2 separate regions of the Homo sapiens genome follow, and region 1 is linked to region 2. Evidence: fine-mapped expression QTL. A gene starts in region 2. The other region holds a variant in brackets. All regions are shown on one strand. Distances are between the middles of the regions. Region 1 overlaps LOC124900839. Region 2 holds the start of GRK4 (G protein-coupled receptor kinase 4).

The links. PIP is the estimated chance that this variant, and not a neighbour inherited with it, causes the effect.
Region 1: its variant is fine-mapped to the expression of GRK4 in vagina (GTEx, PIP 0.96).

What each region holds. Positions count from the first base shown.
Region 1 is chr4:2,013,557-2,029,246 of GRCh38, forward strand. It overlaps LOC124900839, which reads right to left. Exons shown (of 4, transcript XM_047416543.1): 2 at 9,849-9,980; 3 at 4,114-4,186. Among named protein-coding and RNA genes, the nearest start is that of NELFA, 12 kb to the left of the region's middle. The variant T/C (reference allele first, on the strand shown) is at 7,097.
Region 2 is chr4:2,955,864-2,971,553 of GRCh38, forward strand. It overlaps GRK4 (G protein-coupled receptor kinase 4), which reads left to right and starts at 7,708. Exons shown (of 16, transcript NM_182982.3): 1 at 7,708-8,259. The coding sequence starts at 8,208. It overlaps NOP14 (NOP14 nucleolar protein), which reads right to left and starts at 7,543. Exons shown (of 18, transcript NM_001291978.2): 1 at 7,262-7,543; 2 at 1,743-1,877; 3 at 807-948. The coding sequence starts at 7,456. RefSeq lists enhancers at 6,101-6,170, 7,201-7,734, 7,735-8,268 and silencers at 7,731-8,160, 8,331-8,380.

The DNA.
Region 1 (15,690 bases), 940 kb before region 2:
GAGAGGGTCTTACTCTGTTGCCCAGGCTGGAATGCAGTGGTGCGATCTCAGCTCACTGCAGCCTCCGCCTCCCAAGCTCAAGCGATTCTCATGCCTCAGCCTTTCAAGTAGCTGGGACTACAGGCATATGCTACCATGCCCAGCTAATTTTTGTGTTTTTCTCTTTTTTGATATAGAGTCTCGCTCTGTTGGTGAGGCTGGGGTGCAGTGGCGCGATCTCGGCTCGCTGCAACCTCCGCCTCCCGGGGTCAAGCAATTCTCCTGCCTCTCACCTTCCCTAGTAGCCTCCGCCTCCCGGGTTCAAGTGATTCTCATCGCTCAGCCTCCTGAGTAGCTGGGATTACAGGCATGCAACACCAAGCCTGGCTAATTTTTGTATTTTCGGTAGAGACGGGATTTCACCATGTTGGCCAGGCTGGTCTCGAACTCCTGATCTCAGATCCGCCCACCTCGGCCTCCCAAACTGTTGGGATCCAGGTGTGAGCCACCACACCCAGCCTATTTTTGTGGTTTGTTTGTTTGTTTAGTAGAGATGGGGTTTTGCCATGTTGGCCAGGCTGGTCTCCAACTCCTGGCCTTGAGTGATCTCCCCGCCTTGGCCTCCCAAAGTGCTGAGATTATAGGAATGAGCCACCACGCCTGGCCAGTTCTTTCTTACTTATTTTTTTTAGAGATAGCGTCTCACTCTTGCCTAGGCTGGAGTGCAGCCGTACAATCTTGGCTCACTGCAGCCTCATAGCTGAGACTACAGGCGCGTGCCACCATGCCCAGCTAGCTTTTGAAATTTTTGTAGAGATGAAGTCTCACTATGTAGAGATGACGTCTCAAACTCTTGGCCTCAAGCAATCCTCCCACCTTGGCCTGCCAAAGAGCTGGGATAACAGGTGTGCACCACCGCGCCAGGCCTCATACAGTTCCTAATCATTTTCATTAGCTTAACTCAGATGCCTTAGTGTATTTCATGCTCTTATGAATGATATCCTGTATTCTATTTTCCAGTTGGTTATTATGAATACGAGAAATACTATTTTTTAAGTTGGACATACATCCAACAACCTTTATGGACTCCTATATTTATTCTAATAGTGGGTTGATTTAGTTGGTTATTCTGAATATTTCATTTACAGACAATGACAGTTCTGTGTCTTCCATGTATATTTATACTTTTCCTTTATTATTTTTTTGGTATTGGCCAAAGATTCCAGTCCTGTTGAACATTAGCAGGGCAGTAAGAATCCTGTTGTCTTGCTTTCAGTCGTAAAGGTATATGTCCAATTTTTTTTTCACAAGGCAGGGTCTTGCTATATTGCCCAGGCTAGTCTCAAACTCTTGGGCTCAAGGGATCCTCCTGCCTCTGCCTCCCGCCTCTGCCTCCCAAAGTGCTGAGCCTCCACACCTGGCCCATGTCTAAATTTTATCCATGAAATAATCTAAGTTATTAGTGGATCACCTTTGTCCACTTAAGGAAGTTTTCTTGTTTCCTTTATGTTCCAGAGTTTTCATCCTAACAGTGTTTCTCTTTAAGAAAAATGAGCTTTTCCGCATCTGTTGAGAAAATCTCACGCTGCCCTTCCTTTAGGCTATGAATGTGGTGCCCAAGGTCATGATAGGATCTCTGATGTTCAACCGTCCCTGTGCTCCTCAGAGGAGCCTTACTTGTCAAGATGAATTATCTTTCAGGGCCAGGGCCCGGGCAAGGGGAGAGAGCTGAGGGAGGCTTAACAGGGGTCAGAACACTCAGCCATCACAACAAATGGTATTTGAATGCAATATTTTAAAAACTCAAAATCAATGCCAGAAAAAATCAATGATAAACAACATACTGAAATTTTAAACAAAGACAGATAGTAACAGTGCCATGTCAAGCCATATTGGAGCTGAGGCAAGAAAACCAATCAGTGATACTGATGCTGTCTTCATTTAAAATTTTATATTTTGTTCACCATAGTTTTTTTGCATGAGTTTTGACTCTTTAAGGTAGTGTATTAAAATATTTACCTTTTAAAATATTTTTTCTTTTAAATTATTTTCCTTTTATAGGAGCTACTAATTGAAAAATATTTATCTTAATAACTATTTTGGAACCTCCTGAATATTTTGCCCAAAGCAAGTGCTTCACATACGTCACCCTAATCACAACCCTGTTTCTCTTAATTCGCTGTGAATTTCTTTAAAATTTGCACCTCTGATTATGAGTGAATTGTCCTATAATTTTATTTGTATATATTCATTTTTATCTAGATTGGGAATTATGGCTTTCTAGCCTTTTATTTATTTATTTGAGACGGAGTCTTGCTCTGTCGCCCAGGCTGGAGTGCAGTGGCACGATCTCCGCTCACTGCAAGCTCCACCTCCTGGGTTCACGCCATTCTCCTGCCTCAGTGTCCTGAGTAGCTGGGACTACAGGAACCCGCCACGACGCCCGGCTAATTTTTTTTTTTTTTTTTAAGTAGAGACGGGGTTTCACCGTGTTAGCCAGGATGGTCTTGATCTCCTGACCTTGTGATCCGCCTGCCTCAGCCTCCCAAAGTGCTGGGATTACAGGTGTGAGCCACCGTGCCCAGCCTAGCCTTTTAAATAAGTTGGCAAGACTTTTCATCTATTCTCAGCAGCTGTGTAAAGGCAGGAGTGACCTCTCCCCTGTTGACTTTGTGTCTGCCTCTGGGCTTTCTGTAGAGTAGGTTTAGAGGCCTTTCAAATCTCAGTGCGGCCCTGCCTGCAAGCTGCTAGAGGCTACCTTTGCCTGCATGATCTATCAGAGACTTCTCTGGCTCTTTCCGTTTTAGGACTCCCTCCTGACTTCCTGGAAATTGTGTGGGTCCAGGCTCTGTTTTCTGGTTTGTAAATCCAGAAAGACAGTCAGTTTTCTGTTAGGGTTATCTGCTTGCACCATGCCGGGGCTCCCTAGCTGTCCTCAGGCTTAAGCTTTGAAAATGGCCTTAAAACTCACCAGGATCAGTCAGCTGTGGTGGCTCATGCCTGTGATCCCAACACTTTGGAAGGCCGAGGCAGGTGGATCACCTGAGGTCAGGAGTTCAAAACCAGCCTGGCCAACATGGCAAAACCCCATCTCTACTAAAAATACAAAAATTAGCCGGGCACAGTGGTGGGCACCTGTAATCCCAGCTACTCAGGAGGCTGAGGCAGGAGCATTGCTTGAATCCGGGAGGCAGAGGTCGCAGTGAGCTGAGATCACACCATTGCACTCCAGCCTGGGCAACAGAGCAAGACTTTGTCTCAAACAAACAAACAAATTCACCAGGCTGGTCCTTTCCTCCAAGTTTTTACTTCCCTCCAAAATCCGCTTGCTTTGGTTTATGCTCCAAAGCCTTTAATCAGTGGGAGGGTTGGCCTGTTAGCTATCCCGCCATACTTTTCACTGTTACATGAGTCCATTAAGTGATATGTTTGCTTATTTTTATTCTTATTTTTTTGAGACGGATTCTCACTCTGTCGCCCAGGCTGGAGTGCAGTAGTGTGATCTTGGCTCACTGCAAGCTCCGCCTCCCGGGTTCTGGCCGTTCTCCTGCCTCAGCCTCCTGAGTATCTGGGACTACAAGTCGCCCGCCACCACGCCCGGCTAATTTTTTGTATTTTTATTAGAGATGGGGTTTCACCGTGTTAGCCAGCATGGTCTCGATCTCCTCACCTCGTGATCCGCCCGCCTCAGCCTCCCAAAGTGCTGGGATTACAGGTGTGAGCCACCATGCCCGGCCATGTTTGCTTATTTTTTAAGGTGCCCTAGATCAAATTAAAGAAGTTCCCTTCTATTCCTAATTTGCTACAGGTTTTTAAAAATCATGACCAACATTTAATTTTATCAAATGTTCTTATAAAATGTTTTGTTGTGCATACTGAGATGATTGTATGATTTTTTCACCTTTATTTTGTAAATGTGATGAATTACATTGATTGCCTTTCAAATTACATAAACCTTACTTTCCTAGAATAAGCCCAACTTGGACTATGTTATTCTTTTTTACACGTTGCTAGATTTCGCTTGTTAGTATTTTATCTAGACTACTAATGCTTTGTTCATGAGGAGAGCCTTTACAGTGTTGGGTTAAGTTTATGCAGCCTCTTGCAGTGAGTGGATCCCTCTTCTCACCTTACCTGGGAGAAGCCCTCTAGGTCATCACCACACCAGCAGCCAGTCCTAATCGGCTGCTACGACGGCTCCTGGAAGCTGGAGAAAAAAATGATGACAGAGAAAATGAGGTGGAAGGCTGGGCACAGTGGCTCATGCCTGTAATCCCAGCACTTTGGGAGGCCGAGGCAGGTGGATCATGAGGTCAAGAGATCAAGACCATCCTGGCCAACATGGTGAAACCCTGTCTCTACTAAAAATACAAAAATTAACTGGGCGTGGTGGCTCATGCCTGTAATCCCAGCTACACAGGAGGCTGAGGCAGGAGAATCGCTTGAACCTGGGAGGTGGAGGTTGCCGTGAGCTGAGATCGTGCCATTGCACTCCAGCCTGGGCACCAAGCGTGAGACTCCGTCTCAAAAAAAAAAAAAAAAAAAGAAAGAAAGAAAATGAAAAAAAAAAAGAGATGGAAAAGACAGAGGGGCCTTGGCAGAATATTGAGGACGGGATGAGAATTGAGACCACCTGTGTCCACTTAACTCTTGGGATCAAGAGCTGAGATCACCTGTGTCAACCTGATTTAATGATTATTTCCAGAAAATTCTTTCCAGGAAGATAAAACTAAATCAGTCAATCACTGTTTGCTTCAGGAAAATCTTGCAGAACAATGTATCCTGGCACATAGTTTACCAATCTGGGAACCAGCTCACTCATCAGAACCTTCATCTGGCTGTGTTTCTCTGTCCTGCACTGTTGGGCCATAAGCTCTGTCCTATCCCAATGAGTCCTTGCACTGAAAGACAGACCATCAACCATCTGAGCCCAGATTCTAAAATCCTATGAGGCCAGGCGCACTTTGGGAGGCTGAGGTGGGAGGATTGCGTGAGCCCAGGAGTTAGAGACCAGCCTTGGCAACACAGCAAGACTCTGTCTCTACAAAACACTAAAAAATTAGCCGGGTGTGGTGGAGCACACCTGTAGTCCCAGCTACTTGGGAGGTTGATGGGGGAGGATTGCTTGAGCCCAGGAGGTTGAGGCTGCAGTGAGCTGTGGTTGCACCACTGCAATCTAGCCCGGGCAACAGAGCAAGACCCTGTCTCTAAAAATAAACAAGTTTTCTGGGAGTCACTGTTGAGTTGTTGGCAGTGAATGGTCCTAAATGTTCCCATGGGATTCGGCTGAGACGGCCTCCCCAGGATGGCCTGAGACCTGCGACTGGAACCAGCACTCTCCCCGTGACCCTCTGGTTTTCTTTTGTGAAAGCTCCTTGTGTTCCAGGATTGAGAAAGCCTTCTTACGTGTGCTTTGATTATCTGATGAGATGAAGATTTTGATCCTTGTGGAAACTACTTTGCTCCTAACAACAATTCTGTGTGTCCGTCTGTCCTTGTCACCTTCTGTTGTGAAGAGCTCCTTGGGAAGAGGATGAACTAACACAGGTCTGAATGTCCCTGTCTCAAGGGCACCAAGGGCCAGTGAGTTCAGATCTCGTGAATCCACTGTTCTTATCTAACAAACTAAGTCCTCATCTGCACCTTCAGTTTTGCCTTGTCTTCAGACAGATTCTCTGCTCACGCCTGTCCTCCTAGGGAGACCCTCAGGTCAGCACTGCCTTCAGTGGAGGGTTTGCAACCCCAGGTTGCGAGCTCTTGCCAGGGTGTGTGGTGGCTGGGGTCCTGCCCTCAGGAGGGGTTTCTGCTCCCGGGTGGGCGTGCTCCCGCTGTGACCTCAGTGCTCCCCTTCCCGAATGGTGCCCTTCCCTCAAAGACCACTTCGGGGCCGGGCGCGGTGGCTCACGCCTGTAATCCCAGCACTTTGGGAGGCCGAGGTGGGGCGGGTCATGAGGCCAGGAGATTGAGACCATCCTGGCTAACACGGTGAAACCCCGTCTCTACTAAAAATACAAAAAATTAGCTGGGCGTGGTGGCGGGCGCCTGTAGTCCCAGCTACTCCGGAGGCTGAGGCAGGAGAATGGCGTGAACCTGGGAGGCAGAGCTTGCAGTGAGCCGAGATGGCGCCACCGCACTCCAGCCTGGGTGACAGAGGGAGACTCCATCTCAAAAAAAAAAAAAAAAGAAAAGAAAAGAAAAATTAATTCCTAAAGGATTCCTTTATCAAATAAAAATGGGAAAACGTAAAACTCTTTCAGATCCCTCCAATTGCAATGTGAACTTTATGACCTTTATTGCACTCTTGCTGCAAGCTCCTCCACTGCCCCATCCCTCTTTTATTTATTTTTTTAGAGGCAGGGTCTTCTTATGTTGCCCAGGCTGTTCTTGAACTCCTGAGCTCAGGTGGTCTTCCCCGCTCAGCCTTTCCAGTAGCTGGAGCCCAGGCCCACACCAGCATTCCTGGCTATCTTTCAAAAATTAATTTTCATTTTAATTTTTGTACAGATGGGGTCTTTTTGTGTTGCTCAGGCTGGGATGCCCATTGTTTGAATTCATGTCCTTTCTCTTCTGTTTGGCCAGAAACCCCTAAGGCTCGACTGCCTCTTAAAGGTAAATCATCTCAGAAACAGGCAAGCCCCTTCTCTCTCTCCTTCCTTCTTTCCTTCCTTCCTTCCTTCCTCCTTCCCTCTCTCCCTCCCTCCCTACCTCCCTCCCTTCCTTCCTTCCTACCCTCTTCTTTTTCTTTTTCTTTCTCCTTCCTTTCTTCTTTCTTTTTCTTTCTTTCTTTTCTTTCTTCTTTCCTTCCTTCCTCCCTCCCTCTCCCTTTCTTCCTTTCTTCCCTCTTTCTCTTTATATCTTTCTTTCTCCTTCCTTCCTTTCTCTCTCTCTCTCTCTCTCTTTCTTTCTTTTGTTTTGTTTTTAGAGTCTTGTTCTGTTGCCCAGGATGGAGTGCAGTGGTGCCATCTCGGCTCACTGCCTACTCCGCCTCCCGGATTCACGGCATTCTCCTGCCTCAGCCTCCTGAGTAGCTGGGACTACAGGCGCCCGCCACCATGCCCGGCTAATTTTTTGTATTTTTAGTAGAGACGGGGTTTCAGCGTGTTAGCCAGGATGGTCT[T/C]GATCTCCTGACCTCATGATCCGCCCGCCTTGGCCTCCTAAAGTATTGGGATTACTGGCGTGAGCCACCGCACCCGGTCTCTTTCTTTCTTTCTTTCCCTCTTTCTTTTCTTTTCTTTTCTTTCTTTCTTTCCTTTCTTTCTTTCTTTCTTTCTTTCTTTCTTTCTTTCTTTCTTTCTTTCTTTCTTTCTTTCTTTCTTTCTTCTTTCTTTTTTCTTTTTCTTTCCATAATTTCTCTTTCTCCTTCCTTCCTTCCTTCCTTTATTTATTTTTCTTGAGATGGAGTCTCACTCTGTCACCCAGGCTGGAGTGCAGTGGCATGATCTCAGCTCATTACATCCTCCGCCTCCCAGGTTCAAGCGATTCTCTGTCTCAGCCTCCCTAGTAGCTGGGATTACAGGCGAGTGTGACCATGCCTGGCTAATTTTTGTATTTTTAGTAGAGATGGGGTTTCACCATGTTGGACAAGCTGGTCTCGAACTCCTGGGCTCGAGTAATCCACCTGCCTCGGTCTCCCAAAGTTCTGGGTTTACAGGCTTGAGCCACCATGACTGTCCTGGCTTATTTTTTAAATAACAGCTTTATTGAAGAATAATTTATATATTAAAAATTTACCCTTTTGGAAGTCCAAGCCATAGCAATCAGGCAAGAGAAAGAAATAAAAAGCATGCATATAGGAAAAAAAGTCAAACTATCTCTGTGGGGTAAAGAAAGAGAGATCGGATTGTTACTGTGTCTTTGTAGAAAAGGAAGATATAAGGAACTCCATTTTGATCTGTACTAAGAAAAATTGTTTCTGCTTTGAGATGCTGTTAACCTGTAACTTTAGTCCCAACCCTGTGCTCACAGAAACATGTGCTGTATTGAATCAAAGTTCAATGGATTTAGGGCTGTGCGGGCTGTGCCTTGTTAACAATATGTTTGCACGGCATATGCTTAGTAAAAGTCATCGCCATCCTCCATTCTCGATTAACCAGGGACACAATGCACTGCGGAAAGCCGCAGGAACCTCTGCCCAAGAAAGCCTGGGAATTGTCCAAGGTTTCCCCCAACTGAGACAGCCTGAGATATGGCCTCGTGGGAAAGGAAAGACCTTACCATCCCCCAGCCCGACACCAGTAAAGGGTCTGTGCTGAGGAGGAGGAGTGAAAGAGGGAGGCCTCTTTGCAGTTGAGATAAGAGGAAGGCTTCTGCCTCCTGCTCGTCCCTGGGAATGGAATGTCTCGGTGGAAAGCTGACGATTCCCATTCGTTCTGTTCTGAGATAGGAGAAAACCGCCCTGTGGCTGGAGGCGAGATATGCTGGCAGCAACACTGCTGTGTTACTCTTTGCTACACTGAGATGTTTGGGTAAAGAGAAACATAAATCCAGCCTACGTGCACATCCAGGCACAGTACCTTTCCTTGAACTTATTCGTGATACAGATTCCTTTGCTTACGTTTCCCTGCTGACCATCTCCCCACCTGTTGCCCTGCTACACTCCCCTCGCTAAAATAGTAAAAATAATGATCAATAAATACTGAGGGAACTCAGAGGCTGGTGCCGCTGTGGGTCCTCCGTATGCTGAGCGCCGGTCCCCTTAGCCCACTGTTCTTTCTCTGTAGTTTGTCTCTGTGTCTTATTTCTTTTCTCAGTCCCTCGTCCCACCTGACGAGAAATACCCACAGGTGTGAAGGGGCTGGCCCCCTTCAATCTCTCTTCGCTGATGCTATCATTCTATACCTAGAAAACCCTAAAACTCCACCAAAAGTCTCCTGAACTGTAATGACTGCAGTAAAGTTTCAAGATACAAAATCAACATTCAAAAGTCAGCAGTATTTCTTTTCTTTTCTTTTTTGAGACAGAGTCTTGCTCTGTCACCAGGCTGGAGTGCAGTGGCACAATCTGGGCTCAAATGATTCTCCTGCCCCAGCCTCCCAAGTAGCTGGGACTAGAGGTGCATGCCACCACGCCCAGCTAATTTTCGTTTTTTAGTAGAGACATGGTTTCACCATGTTGGCCAGGATGGTCTCAATCTCTTGACCTCGTGATCTGCCTGCCTCAGCCTCCCAAAGTGCTGGGATTACAGGTGTGAGCCACCACGCCCGGCCAGTCAGCGGCATTTGTGTAAACCAATAGCATCCAAACGGAGAGCCAAATCAAGAATGCTATCCCGTTTACAATAGCCACACACAAAAATAAAATACCTAGGAATACGTCTAACCAGGGAGGTGAAAGATATTGATAAGGAAAGTTACAAAACACTGCTGAAAGAAGTCACAGATGACACAAACAAATGGAAAAAATATCCTATGTTCATGGATTGGAATAATCAATATTGTTACAATGGCCATACTGGGCTGGGCACAGTGGCTCACACGCGTAGTCCCAGTGCTTTGGGAGGCCAAGGAAGGCCTGATCTTTGACAAAGGTAACAAAAATAAGCAATGGGGTAAGGACTCCCTATTCAATAAATGGTGCTGGGATAACTGGCTAACTATATGCAGAAGAATAAAACTGAACCCCTACCTTTCACCTTATACAAAAACTAAAGATGGATTAAAGATTTAAATGGAAGACCACAAACTATAAGAATCCTAGAAGAAAACCTAGGAAACACCATTCTGGACATCAGCCTTGGGAAAGAATTTATTACTTAAGTCCTCAAAAGCAATTGCAACAACAACAACAACAAATTGACAAGTGGGACCTAGTGACACTGAAGAGTGTACGCACAGCAAAAGAAACTATCACAGAGTAAACAGACAGCTTACCGAATAGGAGAAAATATTCTCAGAATATTCCTATGAAGGTGCGATATCCAGAATCTACAAGGATTCGGTTCAGAAGACAGGAGGGTTTGGCAGCCTTATTGCCACATTTTCTTGATGTAGAAGTGTTGCAATCTGGAAGACACAAACTTTACTAAGTGGTTAGACAAGCAAGGGCCACAAATTAGTAGTAATGATATACCTACCAAAGGTCCCAGGTGGGGTAAAAACCAGGTGAGACTTGGGAGGGCATTTCTGACAGTTGACCAGATTAGCTGGGTCTGTGCTCTGGTTATGTCTATGTAACCAGGGAGCTTGCTCATAAATCTTTTGAATGTTAACATTATTATGTCCAGAGTTGTTAATATAGGTGCAGCAGGTTTTGTTAATAACCGTACAGACTCCACCTTGTTCAGCTCGTTAAATAATCCAACACTAGTCTGTTATCAAGGATTATATTTGCCATACAGTCTAGGGATTCTTGTATTCCCTTTTAATGCCTGACCTGTGCTGGTGGCTAATGATTCTAGGGTTTGAGTCGAATTCTTCAGGGTTGACTCGTGGTAGGCAAAGTCACATCAGGGGGCTAAGATTGTCCTATTACTACCCTGATTCCTCCCAGAATTAATCCTATTGCTCATTATCTTCTGATGTTCTTAGGTCTTATGGGGTTATAGACGCGGCCCCTGGAGGGGCAAGGGTGGTCAACATACATTCACTCCTGTTCCAAGATTTTGATATGTAAGGGAAAGCTACTTCTAAAAGAACAGGTGGGCTCCCTGGGGAGCTGAGAGCTGGGTGCTGGGAGTGGTTACGGGGTGGGATTCTTCCCACTTGTGGCCACAAACAAAAACGAACCCAGTTGGGACACAAATAGAGGCCCTGTGGGGCGTGATGTGTATCCTTTCCTGCCAAGTTGGGTCTATAGAGATATTCCTTCCCTGCTCCAATGGGGGTGGTTGAACAACCTTTGTTTTCCAGGACAGGGTGGTACTCCCACCTTCCCAGATTAGACAGTTGTTTTTTCCCCTATATGCTCTGATCTTGGAGAAGGCACCATCTATAATTTCCTCACTCACAAGTGGGATCCGATTTACTTCACTGCAGCCTTGAGAATTTGGCAACAAGTTGTGTGAGAACATTGCAGGGAAGCTTCTGCTTTTGTGTCGTTAACAACACAACAGTGAATGCAAAAGAGAATCGTTAGCACACCGGAGACATAGATAGCCAGCTTTCTGGGTCCAAGTGACAGTGGTGGGGAGTGCGGTACAGGGGTAGGGAGATGGAGGTTCAGGTGAAATCCATTAAGTGGAGGAGAGTTCCACCTAACAAGTAGGGGTCTGGGTACTTTGGGATCACTGTGGTTGGTTAGGAAGTCTGGGGAGATGGCTGTGAGATTTTCCAGATAGGCCAGAAGATGGAACTCTCTGTCCTGGGGATGTTGATGACAAACCCAGCAACCATGAAGATGGTTCCCTGATGCTGTAATTTTTGAAATATTTACTATAGCATTCTGTTACCACCCACCCTGGATCAGGGTGATTGGGAGGGCAAGCAGGATAAACAGTGGCAGCATGGTGTCCAGTTAGGCCTTAGAGTGGCCTCTACACCCAACAAGGACAAAAGAGGTATTTCCCAGTGGGAGGCAGTTGGCCAGAGTGATAGAAAAGAAGTATTACAGGAAAAAGAGAAAAATTAAAACTCCTATTCCCACCCACAGCTGGTGTGCCTGGCTTGCGTAGTGGCCAGACCCTGTGCTTGCTCACTCATGCACCCCTCACCGCTCTTTGCCTGGCTCACCCTTGGCAGGCCTGGGATCCAAGCTGGTAGGATGAGCCAAGCACAGTCTGCCAGGCCAAGTGGGCAGAATGAGCCCAGTGGGCCTGAGCAAAACTCAAGAAAAGGCACCACTGGCCACAGAGGTTTCCAGCTGGTGAAGTGACACCTCAAGGATCCTGTGACAAACCCATATCATTCTGCCCCGGGCCCCCCCAAATCCCACATCCTCCTCACACTTCAAAACACAATCATGCCTTCCCAACAGTCCCCCAAAGTCTTAACACAAAAGTCCAAGTCCAAAGTCTCATCTGAGACAAGGCAAGTTCCTTCCACCTATGAGCCTGTAAAATAAAAAGCAACTAATTACTTACAAGATACAATGGGGGTACAGGCATTGGGTAAATACTCCTGTTCCAAAAGGGAGAAATTGGCCAAACAAAGGGGCTAAGGCCCCATGCAAGTCTGAAATCTAGCAGGGCAGTCATTACATCTTAAAGCTCCAAAATAATCTCTTTTGACTCCATGTCCCACACCCAGGGCATGCTGATGCAAGGGGTGGACTCCCAAGGCCTTGGGCAGTTCTGCCTCTGTGACTCTGCAGGGTACAGCCCCCACAGCTGCTTTCACAGGCTGGTGTTGAGTGCCTGCAGTATTTTCAGGTGCACAGTGGAAGCTGTCAGTGGATCTACCATTCTGGGGTCTGGAGGTTGGTGACCTTCTTCTCACAGCTCCACTAGGCAGTGCCACAGTGGGAACTCTGTGTGGGGACTCCAACCCCACATTTCACCTCCACACTGCTCTAGTAGAGGTTCTGCATGAGGGCTCTGCCCCTGCAGCAGACTTCTGCCTGGACATCCAGGTGTTTCTGTACATCCCCTGATATCTAGGTGGAGGCTCCCAGGCCTCAACTCTTGCCCTCTATACACCTGCAGGTTTAACACCACATGGAAACATTGGTGGCTTCTGGCTTGCACTCTCTGGAGCAGCAGCCTGAGATGTATCTTGGCCCATTTTAGCCACAGCTGGGGCTGGAGTGGCTGGGACGCAGGGTGCTGTGTCCTGAGGTTGCACAGAGCAGTGGGGCCCCGGGCATGGCCGACAAAACCATTTTTCCCTTCTAGGCCTCCAGACCTGTGATGGGAGGGGCTGTCATAAGTATCTCTAAATGCTTTGGAGACATATTCTCTATTTTCTTGACTATTAACATTCGGCTCCTCTTATGCAAATTTTTGCAGCAGGCTTGCTTTAATTCCTCCCCCAGAAAATGGGTTTTTCTTTTCTTTCACATGGTCAGGCTGCAAATTTTCCAAACTTTTATGCTCTGCTTCCCTTTTTTTCTTTTTCTTTTATTTTAGGTTCTGGGGTACATGTGCAGGATGTGCATGTTTGTTACATAAGTAAATGTGTGCCGTGATGGTTTGCTGCACCTATCAATCCATCATCTAGGTATTAAGCCCAGCATGCATTAGCTATTTTTCCTGATGCTCTCCCCCCTCTCCTCCCCCAGCAGGCCCCAGTGTGTGTTTTTCCCCTTTCCATGTCCCTGTGTTCTCATTGTTTGGCTCCCACTTATAAGTGAGAACATGTGGTGTTTGGTTTTTGTTCCTGCGTTAGTTTGCTGAGGATAATGGCTTCCAGCTTCATCCACATCCCTGCATATGACATGATCTCATTCCTTTTTATGACTGCATAGTATTTCACGGTGTACATATACCACATTTTCTTTATCAAGTCTATCATTGATGGGCATTTGGGTTGATTCCATGTCTTTGCTATTGTGAATAGTGCTGCAATGAACATACACATGCATGTATCTTTATAATAGAATGATTTATATTCCTTTGGGTATATACCCAGTAATGGGATTGCTGGGTCAAATGGTATTTCCCATTCTAAATCTTTGAGGAATCGCCATACTGTCTTCCACAATGGTTGAACTAATTTACATTCCAACCAACAGTGTAAAAAGTGTTCCCATTTCTCTGCAACCTTGCCAGCGTCTGTTGTTTGTTGACTTTTTAATAATCGCCATTCTGACTAGCATGAAATGGTATCTCATTGTGGTTTTGATTTGCATTTCTCTGATGATCAGTGATGTTGAGTTTTTTTCATGTTTGTTGGCTGCGTGTATGTCTTCTTTTGAGAATTGTCTGTTCATGTCCTTTGCCCACTTTTTAATGGGTTTTTTTTTTCTTGTAAATTTGCTTAAGTTCCTTGTAGATTCTGGATATTAGACTTTCGTCAGACTGATAGATTGCAAAATTTTTCTCCCATTCTGTAGATTGTCTGTTTGCTCTGATGATAGTTTCTTTTGCTGTGCAGAAGTGCTTTAGTTTGATTAGATCCCATTTGTCAATTTTTCCTTTTGCTGCAATTGCTTTTGGCGATTTCATCATAAAATCTTTGCCCATGCCTATGTCCTGAATGGTATTGCCTAGATTTCCTTCTAGGGTTTTTATAGTTTGGGTCTTACATTTGAGTCTTAAATCCATCTTGAGTTAATTTTTATATAAGGTGTAAGGAAGGGTCCAGTTTCAATTTCTGCATATGTCTACCCAGTTCTCCCAGCACCATTTATTAAATAGGGAATCCTTTCCCCATTGCTTATTTCTGTCAGGTTTGTCAAAGATCAGATGGTTGTAGATGTGCAGTTTTATTTCTGAGTTTTCTATTCTGTTCCATTGGTCTGTGTGCCTGTTTTTGTACCAGTACCGTGCTGTTTTGGTTACTGTAGCCTTGTAGAATAGTTTGAAGTCGGGTAGTGTGATGCCTCCAGCTTTGTTCTCTTTGCTTAGAATTGTCCTGGCTATACAAGCTCTTTTACGGTTCCACATGAATTTTTAAAAATAGTTATTTCTAATTCTGTGAGCAATGTCATTGGTAGTTTAATGGGAATAGCATTAAATATATAAATTGCTTTGGGCAGTATGGCCATTTTCATGATATTGATTCTTCCTATCCATGAACATAAAATGTTTTTACATCTGTTTGTGTCCTCTCTGATTTCCTTGGGCAGTGGTTTGTAGTTCTCCTTGAAGAGGTCCTTCACATCCCTTGTTAGCTGTATTCCTACATATTTTATTATCTTTGAGGCAATTGTAAATGGAAACTCATTCATGATTTGGCTCTCTGCTTGTCTGTTGTTGGTGTATAAGAATGCTTGTGATTTATGCACATTGATTTTGTATCTTGAGACTTTGCTGAAGTTGTTCATCAGCTTAAGAAGCTTTTGAGCTGAATCAGTGGGGTTTTCTAGATATAGGATCATGTCATCTGCAAAGAAAGACAATTTGACTTCCTCTCTTTCTATGTGAATATGCTTTATTTCTTCTCTTGCCTGATTGCCCTGGCCAGAACTTCCAATACTATGTTGAATAAGAGTGATGAGAGAGGGCATCCTTTTCTTGTGCCAGTTTTCAAGGGGAATGCTTCCAGCTTTTGCCCATTCAGTATGATATTGGCTGTGGGTTTGTCATAAACAGCTCTTATTATTTTGAGGTATGTTCCTTCAATACCAAGTTTATTACATTTTTTACATGAAGGGATGTTGAATTTTATTGAAGGCCTTTTCTGTATCTATTGAGATAATAATGTGATTTTTGTCTTTAGTTCTGTTTATGTGATGAATTACATTTATTGACTTGTGTACGTTGAACCAGCTTTGCACCCCGGAGATGAAGCTGACTTGATCGTGGTGGATAAGCTTTTTGATGTGTTCCTAGATTCGGTTTGCCAGTATTTTATTGAGGGTATTTGCATTGATGTTCATCAAGGATGTTGTCCTGAAGTTTTCTTTTTTTGTTGTATCTTTGCCAGGTTTTGGTTTCAGTATGATGCTGGCCCCATAAAATTAGTTAGGGAGGAGTCCCTCCTTTCCATTGTTTGGAATAGTTTCAGAAAAAATGGTACCAGCTCCTCTTTGTACCTCTGGTAGAATTCAGCTGTGAATCCACCTGGTCCTGGGCTTTTTTGGTTGGTAGACTATTTATGTATTTATTTGAGATGGAGTTTCACCCTTGTCGCCCAGGCTGGAGTGCAATGGCTCGATCTCGGCTCACTGCAACCT
Region 2 (15,690 bases):
TCCTAAGCCTTTTACCCCCTGGATTAGCCAAATATCAGAAGGCAGCCCCAGGCTTTAACGCCTTAACTTTCACACACTGACAAGACAAAGCTTTGAGAGTCAGTTTTAGATTTGTACACCTTTGTTCTGAAGATGCTGGAAATGGGACCTACTTTAACTTACAAGAAATGTCAAGTAATTGATGTCATGACTGCAACCTTATAAATAGGGTTCAAGACAGTCAGACCCGAACTGAATCTTAAACTCTGTTAACATTATTTAAGGCCAAAATTTATCTGTTTCATGTTGTTATCTACAGATATGAGGCTCAATATGATTTTCCTCAAACTGCTATAATTCCACAGTAGGTAAAAGCTAAAGGAACTACATCAATGCCACTGGTACAAATATTAGGCTGGAATTGATAAAGTAGGGGGAGCAAAGTAGTGCATTCAGTGAGGCACCTGGAGTCAGTGAGGTGGGTTCTCCCCACAGCTCTGACTCTGGCATCGGGCAAAACACCTTATTTCTCTGAGCTCATGGGTAGAACGAGCTATTTTGAGGTTCAAATAAAATAATGGATATCAACATGCTTTCTTGGCCCATAAAAGCATCTATCTACACACCATCTTAAAGTTCTGAAAACTTAAAAAAAAAACAAAAATACATAAAAACTGTCACTTGTGAAATTTGTAGAGAGGTTAATGATCAGTAAAACTTTCATGCAATAACTTTCTCTAGTCTCTAAGAAGAGCAGAAGGTCTAACAATGAACAGACTCTCCCTGACTCCACGCCCACAGGCCCGTGCACAGCACCCCAGCCTCACCAGACAACGTTCCTCGATCCTCAGCATCGCTGTCACTGTCCACAATGTCATTATGCTTCTCGATGTCTGCCAAAGACTGGCCATAATGAGTCAATTCTTCATCTTCATTTAGATTGTAGATGCTTTTTTTCTCATGATGTCGCTGACAGAAGAGAAAAAAAGTTTCCTAAAATTACCACTTCCATTTCACAGCAAAAAAAAAAAGATAAGGTAGATATATATATTTCCATTATATTTGAAATATGACAACGAATCCTAAGCAGCCTTAAAGAGTATTTTGGGTCAACTAAGCAATGATTCATGATTCAGACAGAAATGAAACTCATGGAGGGTAATTCTTTTTTTTCCTTCAGACAGAGTCTCGCTCTGTTGCCCAGGCTGGAGTGCGGTAGAGTGATCTGGGCTCACTGCAACCTCTGACTCCCTGGTTCAAGTGATTCTCCTGCCTCAGCCTCCTGAGTAGCTGGGATTATAGGCATGCGCCACCACGCCTGGCTAATTTTTGTATTTTTAGTAGAGACGGGGTTTCATCACGTTGGCCAGGATGGTCTCGATCTCCTGACCTCATGATCCACCCACCTCAGCCTCCCAAAGTGCTGGGATTACAGGCATGAGCCACCGCGCCCGGCCTCATGGAGGGGAATTCTTAAATAAGCCCAGGGGCCAGTTTCCACTCCAGCAATGCTGCTCAGCTGAGAACTCCTGTGCACACTGCTGCCGTGTAGTAGAGTTAAGGCATTTATCCATTCAGCTAACATTTGCAGAAGAGGTTGCTTCTCCTTTGGCCTAGCCAGATAAGGCACAGGATTCGAGGGCTATCCCCTGGACCTTCCGAGTGCCCAGGAACATGCAAAACATGCAGAGTCAGCCTTCTCCTTGGCCTTGACTTCCCTGTGAAATGTACAGCAAAAACCCTCCTCCAGTTTCTTTCCATACCTGCTGTTCCAGAGCAAACCTCTTCATCATCTTCTCCTCGGGGCTCATGTTGCTGTTGTATTCTCCGAAGCGTTTATCTCTGAATACATTGGATTTATCCCTTTCTTTGTACTCTTTTAGTAAAGTCTGTGTACGCTGGAAAACAGGTCAGAAACAATCTCACAAAAAATTCTTGTGATTTCCACTACAGGGGACATCAGAACAGTGCATACTTTAAAGTTCAGGGCTATGCACAGTGATGTCAAAGTTCACACCCAATCTGCTTTCATGCACGATAGGCTTTCTCTACTAATCACAGAATTTTGAGAAGAGCAAAACAACTTTCAAGGATAATGGGGCAATCACTTTCTTTTCTTCTTTAGAGTCTACCGGTGCCAAAAGGAAGGGTAAAAAAGAACACACTAGTCAAGCTCAAGGCATGAATGGCTCCCTCGGCTGTAACAGCTGCCTTAAGGTTTAAAACGTGCACATTTGGAAAAGTGGAAATGGGTTTAGACTCCTTCCGTCATGGAGGAGGGTACTATTTCCCATCAAAGGTACTCCTAAGAAATGTGTAGTTGTGAGTTCATACTAGACACAAGGCAATAAACAAGTTAGCGAGGTCACAGTTTAGGGGCTTCACCTTTATAACACCAAGAGGAGCAATATTTTAAATACGGTTAGCAAGTATCAAATAATTTGGTTATTTTCCCAGCAGCAACAAAAAAAGACCAAGTTTAACAGTATTCAAAGTTGGCTGTCCTGGAGGTTGAATTCCCTAAAGAAAGCTGTGAGAGGACAGAGATGGGTGAGGAACGAGTGGCCTCTGCAACCTGAGATGGCCACATTGCAAACTCTTTCTTGCTGCGGAACTTCTTCTATTTGCTAAGGAACTGCCATTACACTGGTGTTTACACAGCAATTCCGAAAGGAAATGGCATCAAGGCAAAATCTTGATGCCATGGAAGGCCCTTGGAATGATCCAATTCAGTGGTTTTACAAACCCACCACAAATCGGTGCCTCGGCAGACATTTGAAACCTCTCATCTAACCCGACTTAAGTGTTCCTTGCCTTCCTCAGGGATTCCTCTAATTTGTGAAGTCACTTTGAAAGAATGCGTGCGTGTGGCAGGAGGGAGCGTGTGGTGACTTGGTCACTGCCACTCTGGTTCCAAGTTCTGTTTCAGGAGGGGACAGGTCAGATTTTGCTCCAGACATAGGTCACTTCCCCAGGGTCGGAGATGAACTTAAAGGCTAAGAAACCCAGATTTAAGGTCAAAACCAGGAGCTGGAAGAGGAGGAAAAGAGAGTGGAAGGGGTTAAGAAGCAGCTGGGCAAGAGCAGAAGATGCTCCAGCAGGGACAGAAGCACGACCTGGCCCTCCTTTCCATTTAGAGCACATTCCATCTGGAGAGGTCAACCGAAATATTAATCATGTGGACAGGAGAAAAGGATGTGAAAAAACCATTTCTCTTATCTCACTTTGAAATGTGAAAGTGCTATTATTACACTTAAAATGCATGAAAAACCCCTCTGCTACCTGAAGAGTAGGAAACCATCCATTAGTTCAATAAATACTGCCAAGGCAATTTTCGTCATTTTCTTCAAGAATATTTCAAGAACCAATTTGTTTCAACTGACACACGCTGAGTTATTAATCCCTAGTAACTTCTAGTAACTTCCTACCGTGGCAGTGCTAAACAATGTTTGTTAAAAACACCTTTGGGGCCGGGCGCGGTGGCTCACGCCTGTAATTCCAGCACTCTGGGAGGCCAAGGCGGGCGGATCACGAGGTTAGAAGATCAAGACCATCCTGGGTAACATGGTGAAACCCCGTCTCTACTAAAAATACAAAAAAATTAGCCGGGTGTGGTGGCGGGCGCCTGTAGTCCCAGCTACTCAGGAGGCTGAGGCAGGAGAATGGCGTGAACCCGGGAAGTGGAGCTTGCAGTGAGCTGAGATTGTGCCACTGCACTCCAGCCTGGGCGACAGACAAAGACTCTGTCTCAAAAACAAAAAAAAACAAAAAACACAAACAAACCACCTTGGGTACAATTTCCTGAACCAGAGTCTAAAGACAGCGAGTGTCCCCAGATAGACCAGAGGGCTCCATCGCCATTGCTCTGTTCTCTCCGCTTCTGTTACGAGCCATTCCAGAGCGAGATCCTGCTGGATGCTGATAGTGAACCACACACAGTACTGAATCAGGTTAAGCTCTCTGAACCTTCACCATTCTTTATCCGCAGAGCAAAATTTTAAAACAACATCTCACTATTTAAATCACAAGGTCTAGCTGGCAATCAGATGGGAGCACATTACATGTGCTAGCCTGTACTGCTCGATGAACTCTGTACGGACAGAGGCTGCTTGCATGCTACACTGAGACCTTTTTTTTTTTTTTTAAAGATGGAATCTCGCTCTGTCGCCCAGGCTGGAGTGCAGTGGCACAATCTCAGCTCACTACAACCTCCACCTGCCGGGTTCAAGCAATTCTCCTGCCTCAGCCTCCCCAGTAGCTGGGATTACAGGCGCACGCTGCCACGCCCAGCTAATTTTTTTGTATTTTTAGTAGAGATGGGGTTTCACCGTGTTGCCCAGGCTGGTTTCGAACTCCTGAGCTCAGGCAATCTGCCTGCCTCGGCCTCCCAAAGTGCTAGGATCACAGGTGTGAGCCACCAAACCCAGCATACACCGAGAAGACTTCTGAGGTCTGTCCCTGCAGAGGGAGGGAGTGTCACTGGCTTCTAGCAGGAAGGGGGTAGATGGGGCAGGCATCAGCCATCTCTGCCTCTAAAAATATTAGTTCTCATTATCTGGAATATGATTCTATGGGTAAATCTTAGTGAAGAACAGCCCTTAGGCTATAAATACGTAATATGAGTTATTCTACATTATTGTGATTCTCTTTCTTTCTTAAACTATATAGATGTTGTGACATCATATGGAATTTACGGCATAAAATGGGGATAACAGTACTTCCCCCTCATAACGGTGAGGATTAAATGTAAACCGTGTGGCACAAGGCCTGACCAACTGTAAGGGACCAGTAACTATATTATTAATATAGTTACTATATATTATTATATTAATATTATATTAATATTATAATCACATTAATATTAATATATTAATATTATAATCACATTAATATTAATATATTAATATTATAATCACATTAATATTAATATATTAATATTATAATCACATTAATATTAATATATTAATATTATAATCACATTATCAATATATTAATATTATAATCACATTATCAATATATTAATATTATAATTACATTATTATTATATTATTATATCAATATTATATTAATATTATATCGATATTATTTTAATATTATATCAATATTATTATATTAATATTATATCAATATTATATTAATATTATATCGATATTATTTTAATATTATATCAATATTATTATATTAATATTATATCAATATTATATTAATACTACATCAATATTATATTAATACTATATTAATATTATAATAATATATTAATATTTTAATAATATATTAATATTATAATAATATATTAATATACTAATATAATAATATATTAATATGCTATTACAATAATATATTAATATGCTAATATTATAATAATATATTAATATATTAATATTGTTAGTATATTAATATATAGTAACTATATTAATAATATAGTTAGTATATTAATATATAGTAACTATATTAATATAGTTACTGATTTAAGAACTACATTAATATAACTTATTTTATAAATTATTTCAGAAATAAGGAAACTGAGGCACAGCTATAAAGCAATGTCCTGAGACTGGCACCTGGGGGCTGCCCTCTTCCTGCCAGACTGAGTGCCTCAGAGTGCTACAACTGACCAGAGGGGAGAAGCCAACTGAGGCAGCCTGTTTACTTCTAAGGGACTAACCCACATGAAAAGACCCAGGCCTCCTGCGCCGGCCTCACGGCCCCTACACGCGTTATCAAGCTTGGAGTCAACTGGACGACCTGCTGTCCCTCAGACAGCTGTGAGTGCCACACTTCACCATACCGGGACAATGTGCCTTTGCATGTGTGTCCTCTGCCCACCCTGGGCCCATGAACAGCTCACTCCCCTTGCAAAACTTGACTGTAACTCCCTCTAGAAGAATTTTTGGACTTTCCTAACTATTACACTTTTTCCTGACCGGGATCTCCTAAGGCACTCAGGTTCCATCTTTGATTTCTTCAAATATTTGTGTTTCTTCCAAGGGCCAAGCATTGGAGATCCAAAAAGGAGCAGCAATTCCCGTCCCCGTCCCAGGCCTTCAGCACAGGGCAGGGAGGTGGATCTGCTCAATACCAGAAGTTTGAGCAACCTGTCCTATTTGGGTTACATAGCTTGGGTGGTGAACCTGAGCTGGCCCTTTAGAGACTTTCGGAGGTAAGGCAGACCTTTTGGACAAACTGAGTTGCAAGAGGCGAAGCAAGGACAACAGCCAGACTGTGCGGGACTCGAACGACAAGCCAAGAAGGTTAAGAATAACAGTATTTAGAGAACACTTGCTGTGTGCTCTATGTGCTATCTTACTTAATTCTCACAAACCACCACGAGGGGTAGGATGTATACTATCATCTCTACTTTTGAAATGAGAAAACTGAGGCTTCAGTGGTGAAGACAAATGTGTCTCTTCTAGGGAACCACACTACCTTATTCTCCCACCCCGGCCCGGGGGTGTGTAATGAGGGACTCCTATCGAAGTCAGCTGTAAGTCTATCTTGCCTATTCATTATACAGGCTGTCGTCTTCGCGCAGTAAGGATAATATGTGTTTTGATTCAAAGACCATCCAGCTTGCACACTGTGATGAACAGAGATCAGGAGCTCATGAAGGCAAGGGCAAGTCTTATTTACCTTTATCTCCCCGAACCTAGAAGCGAGGTCAAACAGAAGCGCTCGGGGTAGCAAGAAGGCTTTGTAGATATTGAAATGTGAATGCATGCCCAGCCCTTACCAGGTGCGTGACCTTAGGAAATGCACTTGTCCTTTCTGTGCCTTAATTTTTTCACCAACCTGCTAATGTATGTTCCTCAGTGAAAATTTAAAAAAAAAAAAGTTAAAAAAACTAGGAAGCAATGAGTTTCCATAGAGTTACTTCCCAAGGAACAAGGTTACGCGCTTCGGGAGAGAGCCGATGAAACATCAAACGCAGCATCCTACACAGCCCCTATCCACCGTCCCCAAACCTGCAGAGCTCAAAGTAAACGCGGAAGGGTTAACAAGCAGCTTGGTCCAGGGCGCCGCCCGAAGTGACTGACTCGGCCTGACCCGGTTGGAGGAGTCGCCGAAATAACACGAGTGCAGGGTCTCCAAGACGGCGAGAGTTTCCAGGTCACTCCAGCTCAGAGAACAGCAGAGGCTTTCGGACTATCAAGTCAGTGCCGTGTGCCTGTCACGGCCTGTGCCGCTCAACGAGGAAACCGACGCACCGAGAAGGACGCAGCCGGCCGAGAGCAGCGTGGGGTCCAGATCCTGCCTTCCGGCTCCCCGTGCGCCCCCCGCTTACCTTCCTGAGGGCCCGTGCGCGAGACACCCCGGGCAGTCCCACGTCGTGGCGCGTCTTCCGGCCCAGGATCTGGAACTTCTGCCTGTTAACTTTCACCTCGAACGGATTGGAGTTGGCCTTCGCCGGGCCCCCTCGCGCTCCCGCCGGCGCCCCGGAGGCCTTCCTTCGCGCCCCGACCTTCTTCGCCTTCGCCATGGCGCGCGCCCCGCTGCGCCCAAGGGCCCGAGACCCGAAGAGAGACAGGCGCGCGCTACCCTAAGACACGTGCCGGGCCGCGGAACCGCTTCCTCGTCTCGCGAGAACAGCGCAGCACCTCCGACTCGCGAGAAGTAAACACCGCGCCCGCAGGCTCGGCTTACTCGCCGATAGGCTCAGCGACTACAACTCCCAGCAGGCCACGCGCCGCGGCCCGCCGTGTACTCTTGGCGCAGGGCCTTCTGGGAGCTGTAGTGCCCCGGCCGCGGCGGCGAGGGGCGCTCCCTCTTCAGCTAAGCCGTTAGCGCCGAGCCCGCCCGGGAGCGGGTCGCCGGCCGCGGCGGGCGCCCCTGCCAGTGAGCCCCTGTCCGAAGTGAGCCACGGCATTGACTCGGGGCTGCCCGGGGGCAGGGCACTGAGGAGGGAGTTGCGCGCGCGAGGCGAGGGCGATGGGGCCAAGAAGAACCGGGGCGATAGCGCGGCAGCGGTGACAGCTGGGACCCGCCGCGGTCGGGCTGCCCCCTCCCCTCGCCCCGACCGCTCCCCTGCTGGTGAGGGCCTGCGGAGGCGGCGGCGGCGGCGCCCTTGGTGGCAGTGGTGGCGGCGGAGCAGCCTCCCGGGATCGTGTCCGGAGCTCGAGGAGAGGGTGGTGCCCGGCGAGCTATGCACGGGGGCGGCGGCGTCTCCTCCTGTTCCGCCTCCTCAGTCTCCTCGGTCTCGCAGAATCCGCCGGCGGCGGCGGCGCCAGGACATGGAGCTCGAGAACATCGTGGCCAACTCGCTGCTGCTGAAAGCGCGTCAAGGTGGGTGCGCGGCAGGCGCCCCCGACCCCCCCCCCAGAGAACCCCGAATCCCGGGGAACCCTGGCCCCCCTGAAGGAACCCGACATCCCCGGAGAACCCCGATTTCCCTGGAGAGCCCCGACACCTCCCACTGGGGGAACCCAGATCTGCACGGAGCCGGAGCCGGGGTCTGTGCAGTGTGGTCAGGCTGCCCGGGCCAGGTCCCAGTCCCCATCTCCTGGCCCAGATGAGAGAAGTCTGCGCTTTGCTCTTCTTAGTCTTGCCCTGTGTCCTTGTCCTGTCCTCTCGGTGTGACCTCGGTGACAGTGTTGCTTCAGGATGCGGCAGGCAGTGTCCTGCTTGTGTTGGACAACCTGTCCCACCAAAAAAGAACGGCGTCTTTATGGTCTTAAGGGGGACAAAGAATAGCAGCCTGGGAACTACTCTGGGCGAGAACCTTCCGATAATGATTGTAGGGCAATGTTATTTTTAACATAGCTGCTTGGTTTTGAGGTTTGATCTGAGGCTCTATGGTGTGTCAAGTGTGCTTTAGCACGACGTGGTCACAGATGGACAAGTTGGCAAAAATTCAGCCTTTTATCATTATTAAAGTGAGGCAGAAATTTAAAAATAGTAATAAGTACTGCATTCATTCACTCCAAGAAAAGAAAAAGCCAAGGCCCAGAATGTGGCAAGGCAAGGGTTAAAAAGAAAAGAAGAACAAGTTTTCTTTTGCTTAGCAAGCTCACTTTAAGGACAGTTATAAGATAACGCTGTTCTGTTTGAGAAGTCGAATCCAAAGGAATAGGCTCCAGACACCCCCCTTCCAGAGCAGGGGTGAAGAAAAAAAAAAAAGAGGACAAATATCTGTGTTTAGCCAGTTCTTGGTTTTTTCTTTCAACGCAGCTACAAGGCCACCAGCTATGCAAGGCCACAAGTTATGCCAAGTCATCAGTTATGCTATAGATTATGTGACCTGTCATTATATGATTAACTGCCTTTGTTTTGCTTCTGTAAGTTTGCTTATAAAAATCCTGCTTAGTCTTTGTTCAAGGCTCAGCTTTTTGGATGTGAATCCACTGAGCTGGTGCGTACCTTAACATAAATATCCTCCTGTTTTCACCCATGCTGGTCTCTCTAGTCCTCTGCATCCCGCCACAAAAGCATCAGTTGGTCCAGCCCTTCAGCGGGAGACCCCCACAATCCTCTGTGCAATCCTCTGTCTCGGACCTCATGTCTCCCTTGCCTGCGTCTCAAGAGAGCTGGCGACAGAGCCTCGGACCTCAAGTCCCTGTGCTAGCCACGGTAGTTCTTCACACCCCGTCACTCTTACGGAATTGCTGATTTCCTCTATTTCCTTGCGTGATGGAGCAGCTCTGCTCGGACTGTGCTCCAGGACAGTGTAAATGCCGACTGAAGATGCCACAGCAGCCGGCGATGCATATTTAAAGGACAGTCTGGAGCCGAAGGTGGCGGCCACGCTTGTAGTCCCAGCTACTCTGGAAGCTGAGGTGGAAGGCTCACTTGGGCCCAGGAGAGTCCAGCCTGGGCAAAACACAGCAAGACCATCTCTTTAAAAAAGTCTAAAACAAAGACTTCATCTTCTCAGTATTTTTGTGCACCAACTCACACTATTTTGAATAGAAGAACTGAGAATGGGTGGGAAGAGAATGGGATCTTTTTCCCTTAAGATAATCAGGGAGTCCCAGAGCAGTATGCGTTCTCAGCAGCCATTTTCAGTGGAGCATTTGACTGTGCCTCTTATCCCTGACTGTGAACTCCAAATAGGTCATGGAAAATAATCATCCTTAGTGGAAGTCAGATTGAAGCTAAGCCAGTTTTCTTTTTACACTACCTTCCTATCTGCATGTAATTTACAAAAAGGAACTATACCAAGCCGCCTTCCTTATAATGCTGCAGAGATTAGATAATGAGATAAATACAAGTGCTCTATAAATGCTAAATAACATAAAACCAGATTCTGTCACAAAACCTAAGACCACAGTGATAGTTTGAAAAATGAAAGTTTTGGCCGGGCACGGTGGCTCACAGCTGTAATCCCAGCACTTTTGGAGGCCGAGGCGGGCGGATCACAAGGTCAGGAGATTGAGACCATCCTGGCTAACATGGTGAAACCCCGTCTCTACTAAAAATACAAAAATTAGCCGGGCGTGGTGGCGGGCGCCTGTAGTCCCAGCTACATGGGAGGCTGAGGCAGGAGAATGGCGTGAACCCTGGAGGCAGAGCTTGCAGTGAGCCGAGATCGCGCCACGGCACTCCAGCCTGGGTGACAGAGCGAGACTCCGTCTCGAAAAAAAAAAAAAAGAAAGTTTTAATTTTTTCCCTGAAATATCTCATATTAACTCCACAGTAGTGTGATTATGAGGCCTGTCCCCATTGAGTGAGAGTATTTGCTCCTGTGGTCAGAAAGCATCATTATGTATAGCTTGATTAATGGTTAGAGAAGTTGAATATATAATATTAGATATACATGGATACATGCTGAGTATTGGTTATAATTTAGGGCTTTTTCCCAAGTTGATGACTGTGTTTGTTACTTTAAAGTATCTCCCAGGAAGTACCAGGAGGTGTCTTCTTGGACACATAACTTCATGGACAGCTCCTTGTTTAGCTTCACTGGCTCATATACTAGAAAATTAACCTTTGAAATGAATGAACGTAGCACAAGAGTTATATTCTGGTCCTGAGAAGCGCAATGTTGATTTAATATTATTAGTGAGTCCGGTCATTTCCTGGATTTATTTCAAATAGAATCAGTCAGTCTCAATCCCCCCTCCCTCTCTGGTCCCTGCTATGGTCTGAATATTTGTGTTCCCCCAAAATTCTTATGTTGAAATCTTCACTACGAAGGGGATGGAATTAGGAGGTGGGGCATTTGGGAGGTGATTGGGTCATGAGAGTGGAACCCTCGTGAATGGTATTAGTGCCTTTATAAAAGAAACTAGAGAGACACCCCTCACTCCTTCTACCATGGACACAGAAAGAAGATGCCAGCTATGAATCAGAAAGTGGGCCCTCACCAGACACCAAATCTGTCTTGATCTTGGACTTTTTAGCTTCCAGAACTGTGAGAAATACATTTCTGCAATTTATAAGCTACTCAGTTTATAGTATTTTGTTAGAGCAGCTTGAACAGACTAAGATGGTCTAAACAGAAGATTGTTAGAGCCTTTTCCTTTCAGGAATGTTGGCAGATGATGCTGCACTGAAAGTGTTTGTGTGTCACTCTGCCAGGGACATGAAGGAAGCGTGAAATGATCATATTGGTTTGGTCTTATTTTGTTTCGTTTTGTTTTGAGACAGAGTCTCACTCTGTCACCCAGGCTGGAGTGCAGTGGTATGATCTCAGCACACTGCAACCTCTGCCGCCTGGGTTCAAGTGATTCTCCTGCCTCAGCCTCCCAAGTAGCTGGGACTACAGGCACCCACCATTCCCGGCTAATTTTTTGTATTTTTAGTAGAGACAAGGTTTTGCCATGTTGGCCAGGCTAGTCTTGAACTCCTGACCTCAAGTGATTCGCCCACCTCAGCCTCCCAAAGTGCTGGGATTACAGGCGTGAGCCACTGCACCCGGCCCGTATTGGGTTTTTGTTGGTGTTTTGTTTTATTTTTTTTTCCTTGATATAATTCATAGGTTCATAGATCATATTGTTAATAAATATAAAAACAATTTTTTTTTGAGGCGTCGTTTTGCTCTTGTTGCCCAGGCTGGAGTGCAATGGCGCAATCGTGATCTCGGCTCACTGCAACCTCTGCCTCCCGGGTTCAAGAAATTCTCCTGCCTCAGTCTCCCGAGTAGCTGGGATTACAGGCATGCACCATTATGCCTGGCTAATTTTGTATTTTTAGTAGAGACGGGGGTTTCTCCATGTTGGTCAGGCTGGTCTCGAACTCCTGATCACAGGTGATCCACCCGCCTCAGCCTCCCAAAGTACTGGGATTACAGGCGTGAGCCACTGTGCCCGGCCTGTTTTGTTTTTTTTTTTAATTTAGGATTTTTTCCCTGTATAATATTATTTGTTAAGCAACTTATAACTTTTATGCTTTAAATAAGCTTAAATTATTTCACATCATACTTCTGAGGAGACTTTAACACCGTCTTATCTCTTGGAGAAATTGAAAACAAATGCAGAGAGGAATACGTAATACGTGCATTTAATGTGGGTTTTGGTCTTATATATTGCAATTCTGTTCTGATTTCAGGCTGCGGTGTTATTGAGCAGTTTCTTTAACACCTGCAGCATGGTTAATATACCTGTTATTATTAATGCTGTCTCTTGCTGAGGCTTCCTCCCTAGAACTTTTGCTAACTTAAGCAAATAGGAAATTTATGGAGAAGATATTGGGTAGCTCAAAGAATCAAAGTAAGAACCTAACAATCAGTCTGGAAAGAACAGGATGTGGGACTCATTCATTCATGCATTCATTTGGCAGATGTGTGCTCAGAATGTTCCAGGTACTGTTCCTATAGCAATAAACAACATGTTCAGAAATTCCTGCCATTCTGGAGACCACATTCTTATAGGGGAGGCAGTCTTGAGGCACATAAATAAGACGTGTGGCATATTAGCAAGCAGTGAGTGCCACGGGAGACTACAGCAGGGATGGGGGTAGGAAGCGCCCAGGTGGCATTGGTAGTTGCAGTTTTGGATAGTTTTAGACAGGGGGCTGCTGATTGATAATCAGGTCTCCACGGTCACTCCTGTGACAGAGCAGGTATCTTTTTATTTTATTTATCTGATTTTGCCTCATGAATTTCATGATTCTTATCCTGGGAGAGAGCACCAATTGGCTGGCTTGGCTCTGGCCCCCTTCCTGCATCCGTGGCTAAGGGGGAACCAGGCAGCTGGAATGACAGTCCCACCAAGACATACACCGTGGGGGAGAAGTAAGGGAAGGGCTGCAGAAGAAACCAACAAAGGGCCATTGCAAGGGCCTGTTTACATGACATAGTAAGCAGGCATAGGCCATATGCGCTAGGGCCAGAGGGGTAGCTAGGAGAACGGAGAGGAAAGAGGAGATCAGAGAGATGCTGAAGGTAGAAGACACTGGATAGAGGAGCGATTGCAGAGAATCCTCAAAGTTGCCTTTGAAATTCCCTAGCTGAGGAAATTAAAAGACTGCTCTTTCTAGTCTTGAACTCCTGACCTCAAATGATCCACCCGCCTTGCCCTTCCAAATTGTTGGGATTCCAGGTGTGAGCCACTGTGCCTGGCCAAATTTTCTTTTCTTTTCTTTTCTTTCTTTCTTTCTTTTCTTTTTTTTTTTTTTTAAAGAGAGTTTCGCTCTTGTTGCCCAGGCTGGAGTGCAATGGCACAATCTCGGCTCACCGCAACCTCCGCCTCCTGGGTTCAAGCGATTCTCCTGCCTCAGCCTCCCAAGTAGCTGGGATTACAGGCATGCACTACCACGCCCGGCTAATTTTGTATTTTTAGTAAAGATGGGGTTTCTCCATGTTGGTCAGGCTGGTCTCGAACTCCCAACCTCAGGTGATCCGCCCACCTCGGCCTCCCAAAGTGCTAGGATTTACAGGCGTGAGCCATGGTGCCCAGCCTTTTTTTTTTTTAAAGACAGGGTCTCACTCTGTTACCCCGCTGGAGTGCAGGTGGGGAAATCATAGCTACTGAAGCCTCAAAGCCTTGAACTCTGGGGCCAAGCAGTCCTCCTGTCTCAGACTCCCAAGTGGCTGGGACCACAGGCATGCGCTGCCATGCACAGATAATTTTGTGGTTTTTGTGGAGATGGGGTCTCACTATGTTGCCCAGGCTAGTCTGGAACCCCTGGACTCAAGTGATCCTACCCTCCCACTTCAGCCTCCCAAAGTGCTGGGATTACAGGGTGAACCACTACACCCGGCCTATTAGAATTTTCAACAGCATGTAAGATCAAGTTTTCTAGAAAGAGTTATAAACTTAGTATTTCTTATCTGTCAGATATTTGAAGTAATCTATGTAGTAGTCAGCCAAATTATTTCTCTGCCAACAAAAGGTTACCCCATTTTCCCTAAGCAATAATGTCTACCGTCTGTTACTATCATTATGGTACAGCTAATTTGGGATGCTATCAATCAGCCAGGTTATTAGCAACCAGGTCAGTTTGGTTTTCTTATATTTTCTACTTTGTCTATCTAGATTATAATGGCTTTAAATCAGGATTTTTATTTCTTGGTCAGTGAATCAAATATTGGGTTATTGGCTTTATGCTACTTTAGGACCAAAAATATCTATACCACTGATACTATAAAATAATATTCTTGGCCAGGCACGGTGGCTCATGCCTGTAATCCCAGCACTTTGGGAGGCCAAGGCGGGCGGATCACGAGGTCCAGGTATCGAGACAATCCTGGCCAACATGGTGAAACCCCGTCTCTACTAAAAATACAAAAATTAGCCAGGCATGGTGGCATGCACCTGTAGTCCGAGCTACTCGGGAGGCTGAGGCGGGAGAATCACTTGAACCCGGGAGGTGGAGGTTGCAGTGAGCCGAGATCGTGCCACTGCACTCCAACCTGGCGACACGGTGAGACTCCATCTCAAAAAAAAAAAAAAATGTTCTTTTTTTTTGGGGGGGTCAGTCTCGCTCTGTCGCCCAGGCTGGAGTGCAGTGGCGTGATCTCAGCTCACTGCAAGCTCTGCCTCCCAGGTTCACGCCATTCTCCTGTCTCAGCCTCCCCAGCAGCTGGGACTACAGGCACACGCCGCCATGCCTGGCTAATTTTTTTGCATTTTTAGTAGAGATGGAGTTTCACTGTGTTAGCCAGGATGGTCTCGATCTCCTGACCTTGTGATCTGCCCGCCTCGGCCTCCCAAAGTGCTGGGATTACAGGTGTGAGCCACCGCGCCTGGCCAAAAGAATGTTCTTGAGCTTTATATTTTGACCCAAATTAGGCAATAGTTACCTTAAAGAAAAATGATACAGTCAAAATCATTTTGGCTTTATTAAAGCTCCTCAAAAAACTCTAGAATTAGGGCTTTCTTAAGTTACTTTTTAGCAGAAACATTTACGGTATTTTGTACATATGTGTGCAAAGTTGCTTATTAACATTTATGTCATGGTCATAAAGACTAATTTGGTAACAATATTCAGTCTCCAGTAAATATGTGGTTAATTGATATGCAAATTACTTCCAAAGTACAAATTAATAGTCTCATATTACATTTTTGTGCTTTGCTACCTTTACCTCAAACAAAATAATCTGTAGGATTCTTCATGCTTGTTTCAGCACCTTTTGCCCAGCTTTGCTTGCTTCATTGGCCAGAGGACTGTCAGCACCTCATGAAGCCCTTTATATGCTTCTCTGAGGTCATTTGCATAATGTTGTGGCCTATAGTAGGTTCTCAATAAATACCTGATGGATGAATGAATGAATAAGGATGAGGAAATGAACACGGTAGGTATGCCTGGATCTGAAGCAGAAGTGGCCCAAAAATG